3 linked regions of the Homo sapiens genome follow. The protein of the gene in region 1 purifies or fractionates together with the protein of each later gene. This does not show direct contact. Each region holds a gene or a part of one and is shown in the gene's direction. Other genes may lie near its edges.

The links.
Region 2: the proteins of IGFL3 (region 1) and FBN2 purify together in Homo sapiens (affinity purification with mass spectrometry; one large-scale study listed by BioGRID and IntAct). This does not show direct contact.
Region 3: the proteins of IGFL3 (region 1) and JAG2 purify together in Homo sapiens (affinity purification with mass spectrometry; one large-scale study listed by BioGRID and IntAct). This does not show direct contact.

What each region holds. Positions count from the first base shown.
Region 1 is NC_000019.10:46,122,511-46,126,261, reverse strand, and holds the start of IGFL3 (insulin growth factor-like family member 3 precursor), read left to right. Parts: upstream 1-1,573; 5' UTR 1,574-1,612; coding exon 1,613-1,637; intron 1,638-1,940; coding exon 1,941-1,994; intron 1,995-2,105; coding exon 2,106-2,376; intron 2,377-3,751. UniProt on the Homo sapiens protein: Potential ligand of the IGFLR1 cell membrane receptor.
Region 2 is NC_000005.10:128,531,612-128,535,262, reverse strand, and holds part of FBN2 (fibrillin-2 precursor), read left to right. Parts: intron 1-3,651.
Region 3 is NC_000014.9:105,141,045-105,144,795, reverse strand, and holds part of JAG2 (protein jagged-2 isoform a precursor), read left to right. Parts: intron 1-1,157; coding exon 1,158-1,314; intron 1,315-1,625; coding exon 1,626-2,101; 3' UTR 2,102-3,751. UniProt on the Homo sapiens protein: Putative Notch ligand involved in the mediation of Notch signaling. Involved in limb development.

The sequences.
Region 1 (3,751 bases):
GGAGGCAGTCTCCAAATGTGGAGACATTTTAAGAAATCTTTAACAGATTTATTTCCCATATATTTTTATTTTTCTATTCGCCTTCCAAAAGTCTACGTCTCAACATGTTGCAAGAAGCTCTGTTAATAAACATTCTAAGTGATGAGATTGCATCTTAGAGTTGCAAAACAACAGTGTATCTTTCAATAACATCTTAGTGTTAATGAGATACAACATAAGGATTTCTCTAAATGATTATCATTATAAAATGCATTAAAAATTATCCCTTCAAGCTGCCCCTTGCCACTTCTGTAAGATGAAAAATTAAGTACACATTAACTTCCCAATGCCCAATAGTAAAGCTGAAGTTTCATTTGGAATAAGAATGATAATTGTATATTAAAGATATTATTATTTGTCCTTTGTATTTTACCTAATCAAACTCAAACGTTTCTTTTTAACATTTGGTAGTAAACAAGCTGACAGCCTGGGCTCACTAGGAATCTTCACATTGTTGGCCTTCTTAGGTTCCGGGGTAGGGGAGAGCAGCCTTGTGCATCCAAACCACACCCCACACCTCCGCACATGTACAGGAAGCTAAGAATGAAGCTCAGAAAAGGAGAACCATTTCAAAGGCTATGGTACAGGCTGGATGAACTTAAGTCAGCAACTCTTCCCTATGCTGTGCCAGCAAGTGGAGGATGGAAAGTCTGGCCAATCCTTAGACATTTTCTGATTGAATCATCACACATCCATGAAGACTGAGGTCCTTTCCACAGCTTCGGGATTATTTGAATTTGTCCAAGCCCTTCCCTAGCTGGCACTTGCCTGGCAGGCCTCAGTTTGCCCTGCCCTTCCCTCTGTCTGCACACCTAAGTACTACACACTCCTAAGTACTACATCACTTATCATTGGCCACTAATATAATATGATTATGAAAAGCAGGTGTTTAGTACTTTCCCTGACCATGTAACTAAGATGCTGGAGGTCTCTGAATCCTCACACCAAGCACACCAGGAGATTTGGGCCATTGCTATTCTCCACCCCTACCCCCTTTATTGGAGTTTCCAGAGCCGTGGCTCAACTGCTAGAGCAGGTGGCAACTCTAATGACTCCAGAGCAAAAAATAAAGTGGCTTCATAAACGGTCCCCTTGACATTTCCAGAGACATCGTGCTTGGGGAATATAGAAGAAGCAAGTATTAGGAAGGGGAGGATGTGAAACCAGATGGGGAAGTGGCTGAAGCATTCTCTCTGATTGGAGCTTAGTTGGGCACTGTCTCCTCAATGTCGGAGCTTGAAAACTCTTAGAAGCCTAACTTGGAGTAGGACCAACCTACACTCATTCACCCTGAGGTCTGCAATAGTATATGGAGAATGCAATGAGTCAGTCTGCAACATTCGGCTCTGTGGTCCCTTACGCCACCCAGTCTCCTCCTTAAAGAAACTAATGAATGTGCTTGGGAGACTTTGGTTATCTTCAAGGAATGTGCTTGGGAGACTGCAGGTGGCATGATCAGCAGCCATCCAATCAGTAAACTTACCAGGTTAACAGACAACCCCATTTAGGCTGTCTCCATAAGTTCCAGCCTTTTACCACTCTTCTTCAATTCTCCTAGAGCATCTTTGGAAGCATGAGGCCACGATGCTGCATCTTGGGCAAGTAGGACCCCAAATCCAAACATCATCTCATCTCATTCCCAGTGCAGCTCCCAAACCTCAACCCGATTTATTCCTCTTTATCTCTAACATTATTCCAGCCTCCTGTGCCCTACTAGTCACCTCAAAGGGTGACTGAGCGTGCTGCTCAGGGCCTGCCTGAACGGGATCCCATACAGACTTAGCCCCAAGTGATAATCTCCACCTTTAAACCACCCTAACCTCTGTTTGTTTGTTTGTTTGTTTTTTCCATACTTGTCACATTCTCAGCTCCATGTTCAACCTTTTTCCTTTCTCCCTTAGCTCTTGTCTGCTGGATAACAGTCTTCCTCCTCCAGTGTTCAAAAGGAACTACAGGTAAGGACAGGACAGGGAAAAATGAGGAGGGAAGAGGTGGTGTTGGGAAAAGAGACTGGGAATTGAGTATCTGTTCTTCCTTGGATGTACACCATCAATGTCTGCCCCCAGACGCTCCTGTTGGCTCAGGACTGTGGCTGTGCCAGCCGACACCCAGGTGTGGGAACAAGATCTACAACCCTTCAGAGCAGTGCTGTTATGATGATGCCATCTTATCCTTAAAGGAGACCCGCCGCTGTGGCTCCACCTGCACCTTCTGGCCCTGCTTTGAGCTCTGCTGTCCCGAGTCTTTTGGCCCCCAGCAGAAGTTTCTTGTGAAGTTGAGGGTTCTGGGTATGAAGTCTCAGTGTCACTTATCTCCCATCTCCCGGAGCTGTACCAGGTAAAGGTCCCTACCTTGCTCTTAACTAAAGGAATGAGGGAGGGATGAGGGATACAGAGGGCTTGAAGAGGAACTCCTGTTTGTGGAGTTCTAACGGCAAAAGAGTCAGGCTGGTGGCAGCAGGGGAAAGCAAAAAGAAGAAGCAGATAAGCTATAAGTCTGCCTTTCTTCATGGTCGAGGACAAACAGTCCTCCTGCATAAATAACTCACAATCTTCTTGCACCCAGCTATCACCAGACACTCAGCTGGTAGAAAAATGCAAGCAGTGCAGTTGCCTTCCTGATGTAAAAAAACATGCTAAATAATCCAGTGTCAGGAAGACAAAGATGTTTTGCTTCTCTGAAGAAGCTTATAATAATATACAGTATATGTATATGCAGGGAACAATTGGTCAAAAGTGGCTTTTTTGTTTCCCCAAGGGGAAAGACTGGCTTTGTAATTATAATTTTTTCCTTACTTTACTTAAAACTGGTAGAGTCTAAGTATTGTATGAAGTGTCCATGATTCTGTCAGTAAATTTGAGCATATTTTTATTAGTTAATGTCAGTTTAAGTAGTCCTTTTGTTTCTATTTTTAAGATGAATTTTAAATTCTATCTGAAATCAGTAAGATACCTGGAGAAAAACTGCAGTGAGAGGAGGTCAGTATCCTTTTTCAGGAGGAACTGATATCTCTGGCTAAATATCTGTCCTTTTATTATGGTTTCTAAATCGGTTATTTTCTTCAGCTTTAAGTTCATAAAATTAAAAAAACTATTAAAAAATTCCTGTAGCTGTTGGAATAATTAAAAATTCTGGTGCAGTGGTGGTATACCAATCTTTAGAATTCTTAAGTAATCTAATGTTTCAAGTTGAGGTCATGCTTGGGAAAATCATGTCATAGCATTTACATTATTTTCAAATGTCATTTTTTTTACCCTGGAAAGAAGTAATAATGTTCATCATAACCCTAGCAGTCTGGATAGTGAGCTAAACAAACCCTTGGAAGATTACATTTTAATCAAGTAGACTAGGAATACAAAAAACAAGTCCTTCCTCCCCTTCCTCCCACCTTTACAATCTTACTGGAAGGGTGTTCAGAAATTAAAATTTGTGTTTGCTAAGACTTTATTCTGTTGGGGGTTTTAAGAGGTAATACGTGTAATGTAAAATGTATGTAAACCATTGCAGTTTTTTGGGGCATTTTTCCATGCAACAGTAAGTTGTCTGACAGTAACCGAATGTAACTTACAGAAAGTAATTAAAAGTTATATTCAGAATAACAGCAATCAGGCCTTGGATGTTCTTTATTAAACTCTTTTCAGGCAGTAAACTTTACCAAAAAAATCTGTCATTTTCTAAAGTCCTTGTGCTAAAACTGTTGACTATGGAAAAC
Region 2 (3,651 bases), on another chromosome or scaffold:
CCAGTGTCATAAAGACTAATTTCTTCTTATTTTTTCTACCTTAACATCCCACTATTTCCAATGGCAAAAATAGGAAACAACTGTGTTATTTAAAGTGACTTATAAATATTTTGAACAAATCCTCTGATTATAATAAGCCTTTGCTTTATTTTTTAAAAGAACATGTTCTGCATTCTTTTCTCTCCAACACAGAAGTCATATGTGAGGCATTAATGGAGGGTGGGTTTACTCTTTCAGGCCAGTAGGGCATTACCATGGCTGCTTTAAACTTACACGGTTTTTTAGACTCCTGAAACAGCTAACGTCACTCATCACACACCTGCCATACTAGCTGGGAGTGACTTAGGCACGGCGGAAAGTCTGACTCACTAAATGTAATGAATGTGACTGCCATTATTGAGTTGGAGAGCAGCCGAGGAGGAGGGATTGGTTCATGGTACGTGTTGAAAATCTGTAAAGTCAGATTTTATTGGATCAGTGTGGAATGGGAATTCCAGAGAGCAGAGCCTTCCAGAATATTTGCAGTAGAAATATATGTATGGCCCCACTGATCACTGGTAGAAAATCAGCTTTGAAAATCTCAGGGTAACAGTGACTATTGTAATCTGCATTTCTGAGACTTGAAATATTTGGATGGTTATGAGCTACATTGGAATTTACACGTATCAGAAATCTATGAGAGTAAACTTTGAAATGATCTTTATATCTGTAAGAAACATTTATAACACTTGTGTCAAGACGTATCTACAAAAATATTTATTAGAAACACATCTAAAAATTCTAAGTACCTAAGATTATTAAACAGTGCACAAAATAGGGACAGTGTAATACCTTTATATTCTATTGCATGAGTCTCATTTAATGCTAATAGCCTGCATTCAATTCAGTAGTTCAATTAGTCTGACATTTAAAATGATCATATGTAGAGGTAATAAGTGAAATGAAACCGTTATAAACTCAAAATCAAGAATTTTAATTCCAGGCCTTCCTGATGATAATGAATTAAGTAAATTATTATATTTATTGGATTTATCTGTATCACACCATTTAGCAAAAGAAAGTATCTGAGACCATTTACAAAAAAGAAAATAAATAAAATACAAATAAATAAAAACCAAATATTAATTTTCTCATACATTTGTACCTCAGCATTCTTTTAATATAGAAAAATAAAAAATGGTCAACAGAATTTTAGTGTTTGACAGGCTTTATAAGGAGAAGATATTAAAAAGAAACTGTAATTCTCCAAGTTCTGGAAACCTAATGCATTTTGATTTGAGTCTCTATGTTTTGTTGGTATTGTGCTTAGTTGTAGCCTAGAAAAATTACTGAAGTACTTCCAAACTTCCAAATATTCATTTCCAAAAGTACGGAATTGACTTTCTCACCTTTTTTTTTTTAATCTTCTTAGAACATGAAGCAATGAAACAATTTGCTTATTAATTTATTTATTGTGAAATTATGCTATGAACAGTATTTTGATCAATATAATAAGAGTGGGATGAGGTTGGCTGGACTAAATAACATTTGAGACCTGAGGAAACATCAGAGCATTCCGGTATAATTCCTTTATGTTATGCTACCAAATGAAAACACTGAACCCAGAAAGGCTGTGGGTTTTTCTGGAGCTCATAGCAGATCAATGGCAGAGTGACAACTAAACTTCAGACCTTTTGGGTACTATGTATTCTTTACCTGGCCATGTGACTTCTCACAGCATCACTGAAGTCTCAGCCCCTAGGTCCTGTCTCCCTCTCCCTCTGGTATTTCTAGGTCTCATAGTTTTAGTAATTGTGGGAGGGACGTATTCAGTAAGTGTACCATAGTCTGAGGCTGTTGTGGGGCAAAAGGGCCTCAGCATTCTTGCTTCTCATTGGCTCACAGATACAGAGTATATACCTGTATCCACGACAGGTAAATGCCTGAGAATGCTCAGTCTCCAGCCCATCAAACCTTCATTTGGTTTGGAACCCGGGTGGAGGTACTTTGGGTCTCCTCTCTTAAGCCTAGACTAAATATTGGCCTTCTGGGGAGGAGGAAACTTTGAAATAAAACAATGTTTTAATGCACATTTGTCATTGGAGAGTTACTGGTGATCAGAAACTGTAGTACATTTTAAGAAGTAAGAGTCAACTCCATGGCAGGAAACATATTCTTGCCTAAAATATTTTTATCTTAACATCACAGTATTTGACACTATTCACTTTTTCTTTTTTTATTAATTTGAGACAGGATCTGGCTGTCATCCAGACTGGAATGCAGTGGCATGATCACAGCTCACTGCAGCCTTGACCTCTCGGGCTCAAGCTGCATTCTGACCTCAGCCTCCTGAGTAGCTGGGACTATGGGCACATGCCAATGTGCAAGGCTAATTTTTAAAAAAATTTTCGTAGCGTTGGGGTCTGCCCAGGCTGATCTCCAACTTCTAGGCTCAAGTGATCCATTTGCCTAAGGCTCCCAAGGTGCTGGGATTACAGACATGAGCCACCATACCCAGCCCACTGTTTTCATTTATAAGAAGTACTAATGCTAGTAGTAATATATGGATATCAGAAGGCATCTTGGAGAAGAAAAACAATTAGTGAGTTAGTTTACTTCTGCAGGAAATGCTTTTTTCATTGTTGAGGGTCCCAAATCTCTTTGAAAGTTGTGGGACCTTTCCCTAACTACAGCCAGTTTCAGAGCATTTCCAGACTTTCTTCTTGTCTTTATATATCCAGTCATGGCATGAGCATTAAAGTACACAGCCCTTGTGCCGAAAGAGAGAACTCAATTATGGTTATAGAGAGAAATCTCTCAGCTCCTAAATGAACTGTCTCTAAACATGGGAGAGACTTCCCATTCGAAGGTACTTGGCTACAAGTGTGGAGTATCTGTGGAATGTATTGTGTCAGTGAGCCTAACATTCTTTGCTGTGATGACCCTCATACCTTTCTGTTCATTGGAGGTCACAGCTGCAGGAGGCTTTGACTCTCCCCACCATCAAAATGCCACAGTAGCTTTTCTGAGCAGTAGGAATACGCTAGGTTGTGGAGATAATATGGAAGGAGAAAGGCTGTAGGAAGGAGAGGGAATTATTGAGGGGACCAAAGATTGATCACAGGGTAGGTCAGATACCAGCCTGGAAGGAATGTGTGTGGAACCCTTGAGGCTTGGCCAAGTCATTAGAACTGGAGCCTCTGGTTCAGCCAATTTCATGTTGTCTGTCTCCTGTGAAGGCTTTTGCATAGTGGGCTGTATTTTCTCTATTCCTGCAACCCTCCCAACTACTTAGAATCAAGGCTGTCTTCTCTGGGTGAATTCTGCATTTTAAACTCTCAGTCTTTAATGAAAGAGACAACCTGTATTGATAAGACAATTAAAGATTTAGGATTATGCAATTTTTTTTTCCTTATTGCAAAGCTTTAACTGTTTATTAAAAAAGTAATAATCCATACATAAGCCCATCATGCAGTGAGATCCATTGTACTGTTTGGTGAAAGTTCTTTTAGACCTTTTAAAGCCAGTAAATATGTGTGTGTATATATATATATATATATACACACATACATATATATACACTTATATATACATACATATATATACACACACACGCACACATATATATGTATTTTAAACTTAAAAAGCCTGTGCTTTATTTTATTCTACCAT
Region 3 (3,751 bases), on another chromosome or scaffold:
GGCCCCTCGCTGTCCATGCCGCAGACCCGTGGAACTGCTCCCTGGGCCTGGCCAGCATGAGGGAGATGCAGGGCTGTGGTGTGGAGCCCGCTTCCCCTGCAGCTGCATCCTCGCCCGGTCCCCTGCTCTGTTTTTGTCTCTGTGTCCCTACGTCACAGGCAGCAGGAGAGTCCGTGGGCTTAGTCTGCCCTGGGAGGCCTGCTTTGGGACTGGCACCTGCCCTGGACCTGGGGGGTGTCAGATGTGAATGGATACCAAGGGGGTCGGGTGAGACTGGGGTGGAGACATGCCCGGAGAGGGGAGGGAATGTTCTGGAACATGGTGGGTGGGTGTGCAGAGCAGTGGGTGTGGCCATGGCACAGTGTGGCTGGTGGAGGCCATGGCCAGGCACAGGAAGGACGTGCAGTGTTTTGGTGCCCTGAGGCCGCAGAGGGGGTGGGGGACATGGATGGGTGCTGCTGGGTGATGGAAGGGCAGTAGGGGCAGGGGAAGATGTAAGAAGTGTGCCAGCACAGGTCAGGGCGCCATCAGGGATGTGGTGGAGGCAGGGGCACAGCCCCGGGTTGCTGTGGCCTCGTGAAGGCACTAGGTTTGTGGTGCCCCTGGGGTGTGGCCCATAGGTGGGGGTGGGGGCTGGGAACTGACAAGAAGGGATGGCCATCACGGAGCAGGTGTCAGCGAATGGGGCCACACACCTCCCCAACTCACTGCCTGGTGGCGAGGTCCCCACCGCAGGACCCCGGGCTCTCCTGTGTGCCCGGACGGGGACACCCTCCACCCCTCCACTTCCCCCCACCCCTCACTGCCTGCTGGTGAGGTCCCCACCGCAGGACCCTGGGCTGTCCCGTGCGCCCGGATGGGGACATCCTCCACCCCTCCCCTTCCCCCCACTGCTCGCTGCCTGGTGGTGAGGTCCCCACACCTCAGGACCCTGGGCTCTCCTGTGTGCCCGGATGGGGACAGCCTCCACCCCTCCACTCCTCCCCCCGCTACTCCCCACTCACTGCCTGGTGGTGAAGTCGCCACTGCAGGACCCCGGGCTCTCGTCTCCCGTGCGCCCACCTTGCTCCAGTGTGGCCAGGGCCTCAGTGTTGGGGGCAGGCTGCTGGGAGCCTGGAGCCCTCGAGCCATCCCCACAATGCCGTTCTTTGCCGCAGTCCTTCAGCCCTGCCAGGGACCTGCCTGACAGCAGCCTGATCCAGGGCGCGGCCCACGCCATCGTGGCCGCCATCACCCAGCGGGGGAACAGCTCACTGCTCCTGGCTGTCACCGAGGTCAAGGTGGAGACGGTTGTTACGGGCGGCTCTTCCACAGGTAAGCGCGGGAGGTGGGCCCCTGGGAAGGCACCAGGCAGGCAACTCAGGCATTGGGCACAGAGCCGGCCGATCCTGCCGATCCTGCCAGCCACCAGGAACACAGAAGTCCCTGGCACCTGCTGCCCCAGCCGCCCAGCCCCACAACCTGACCTTCCCAGCCCCCGTCCTGGGACCCTCCCCACGAGCCAGCAACCGGAGGGTGGGGCCCGGCCGCCTGGCCCGCAGGGCCCTCCCAGGCCTGGGTGTGTGGCTAGTGCCCCGCAGGTGCCCAGGCCTCATTGCCCACCGGCTCTTCTCCCCGGTCCCCAGGTCTGCTGGTGCCTGTGCTGTGTGGTGCCTTCAGCGTGCTGTGGCTGGCGTGCGTGGTCCTGTGCGTGTGGTGGACACGCAAGCGCAGGAAAGAGCGGGAGAGGAGCCGGCTGCCGCGGGAGGAGAGCGCCAACAACCAGTGGGCCCCGCTCAACCCCATCCGCAACCCCATTGAGCGGCCGGGGGGCCACAAGGACGTGCTCTACCAGTGCAAGAACTTCACGCCGCCGCCGCGCAGGGCGGACGAGGCGCTGCCCGGGCCGGCCGGCCACGCGGCCGTCAGGGAGGATGAGGAGGACGAGGATCTGGGCCGCGGTGAGGAGGACTCCCTGGAGGCGGAGAAGTTCCTCTCACACAAATTCACCAAAGATCCTGGCCGCTCGCCGGGGAGGCCGGCCCACTGGGCCTCAGGCCCCAAAGTGGACAACCGCGCGGTCAGGAGCATCAATGAGGCCCGCTACGCCGGCAAGGAGTAGGGGCGGCTGCCAGCTGGGCCGGGACCCAGGGCCCTCGGTGGGAGCCATGCCGTCTGCCGGACCCGGAGGCCGAGGCCATGTGCATAGTTTCTTTATTTTGTGTAAAAAAACCACCAAAAACAAAAACCAAATGTTTATTTTCTACGTTTCTTTAACCTTGTATAAATTATTCAGTAACTGTCAGGCTGAAAACAATGGAGTATTCTCGGATAGTTGCTATTTTTGTAAAGTTTCCGTGCGTGGCACTCGCTGTATGAAAGGAGAGAGCAAAGGGTGTCTGCGTCGTCACCAAATCGTAGCGTTTGTTACCAGAGGTTGTGCACTGTTTACAGAATCTTCCTTTTATTCCTCACTCGGGTTTCTCTGTGGCTCCAGGCCAAAGTGCCGGTGAGACCCATGGCTGTGTTGGTGTGGCCCATGGCTGTTGGTGGGACCCGTGGCTGATGGTGTGGCCTGTGGCTGTCGGTGGGACTCGTGGCTGTCAATGGGACCTGTGGCTGTCGGTGGGACCTACGGTGGTCGGTGGGACCCTGGTTATTGATGTGGCCCTGGCTGCCGGCACGGCCCGTGGCTGTTGACGCACCTGTGGTTGTTAGTGGGGCCTGAGGTCATCGGCGTGGCCCAAGGCTGGCAGGTCAACCTCGCGCTTGCTGGCCAGTCCACCCTGCCTGCCGTCTGTGCTTCCTCCTGCCCAGAACGCCCGCTCCAGCGATCTCTCCACTGTGCTTTCAGAAGTGCCCTTCCTGCTGCGCAGTTCTCCCATCCTGGGACGGCGGCAGTATTGAAGCTCGTGACAAGTGCCTTCACACAGACCCCTCGCAACTGTCCACGCGTGCCGTGGCACCAGGCGCTGCCCACCTGCCGGCCCCGGCCGCCCCTCCTCGTGAAAGTGCATTTTTGTAAATGTGTACATATTAAAGGAAGCACTCTGTATATTTGATTGAATAATGCCACCATTCCGGCCTCCCTTGTTCTTTCGGTGCTGTCCCTTTTGTATTGAGAGTGAGGTTGGGGGAGAGCCACGCCGGCAGAGAGGCTTGGGGCAGTGGGGCGCGTGCTGGGTATTGGCCCACGTGGCTGTGGTGGCTGTAGAGGGCGAGACGGTTCTGTTGAGTCGGGGCCTGCCAGGGCCTCGAATGCGTTGGCATGCCAAGGTGGTGGATGCAGGTTTGGCCAAAACCTTCCTGGGAATGGGGAGGGGGGTGTCTAGGTGCCTGGCACCCGACCCTGACTAAAACAGCTGAAAACAGTTTTATAAAATAGTATAAAATTGCTTACCCACGAATACGTATCAAGGTCTTAAGGAATTAACAGGTCAAAATTTTTATTCATTCATTTATTCCTTTGTTTTGCTTGGTCATTCAGAGGCAAGGTCAGCATTTGATGGAGGCAGGAGAGAAGCAGCCCTTCCACCTGGCCCTGGAGCTGGTTTTGCCCCTCACTGCTTGAGCCAACTGGAACGTGGCATGGTGGCCTCAGGGCTGGGCATGGAAGGCCGACTCCAAGGCTGACTCCGAGCCGCCTGTCAGTGATGTGCAAGTCTTTACCCTGCTGTGAGGGGTAGGAGGTCAACTGAGTCAAGGAGCAAAGCCAAGAACCAGATCTGTACAAAAGAGAAAAAAAAAGTCCTGCTGACAGCCTGGGAGTGAG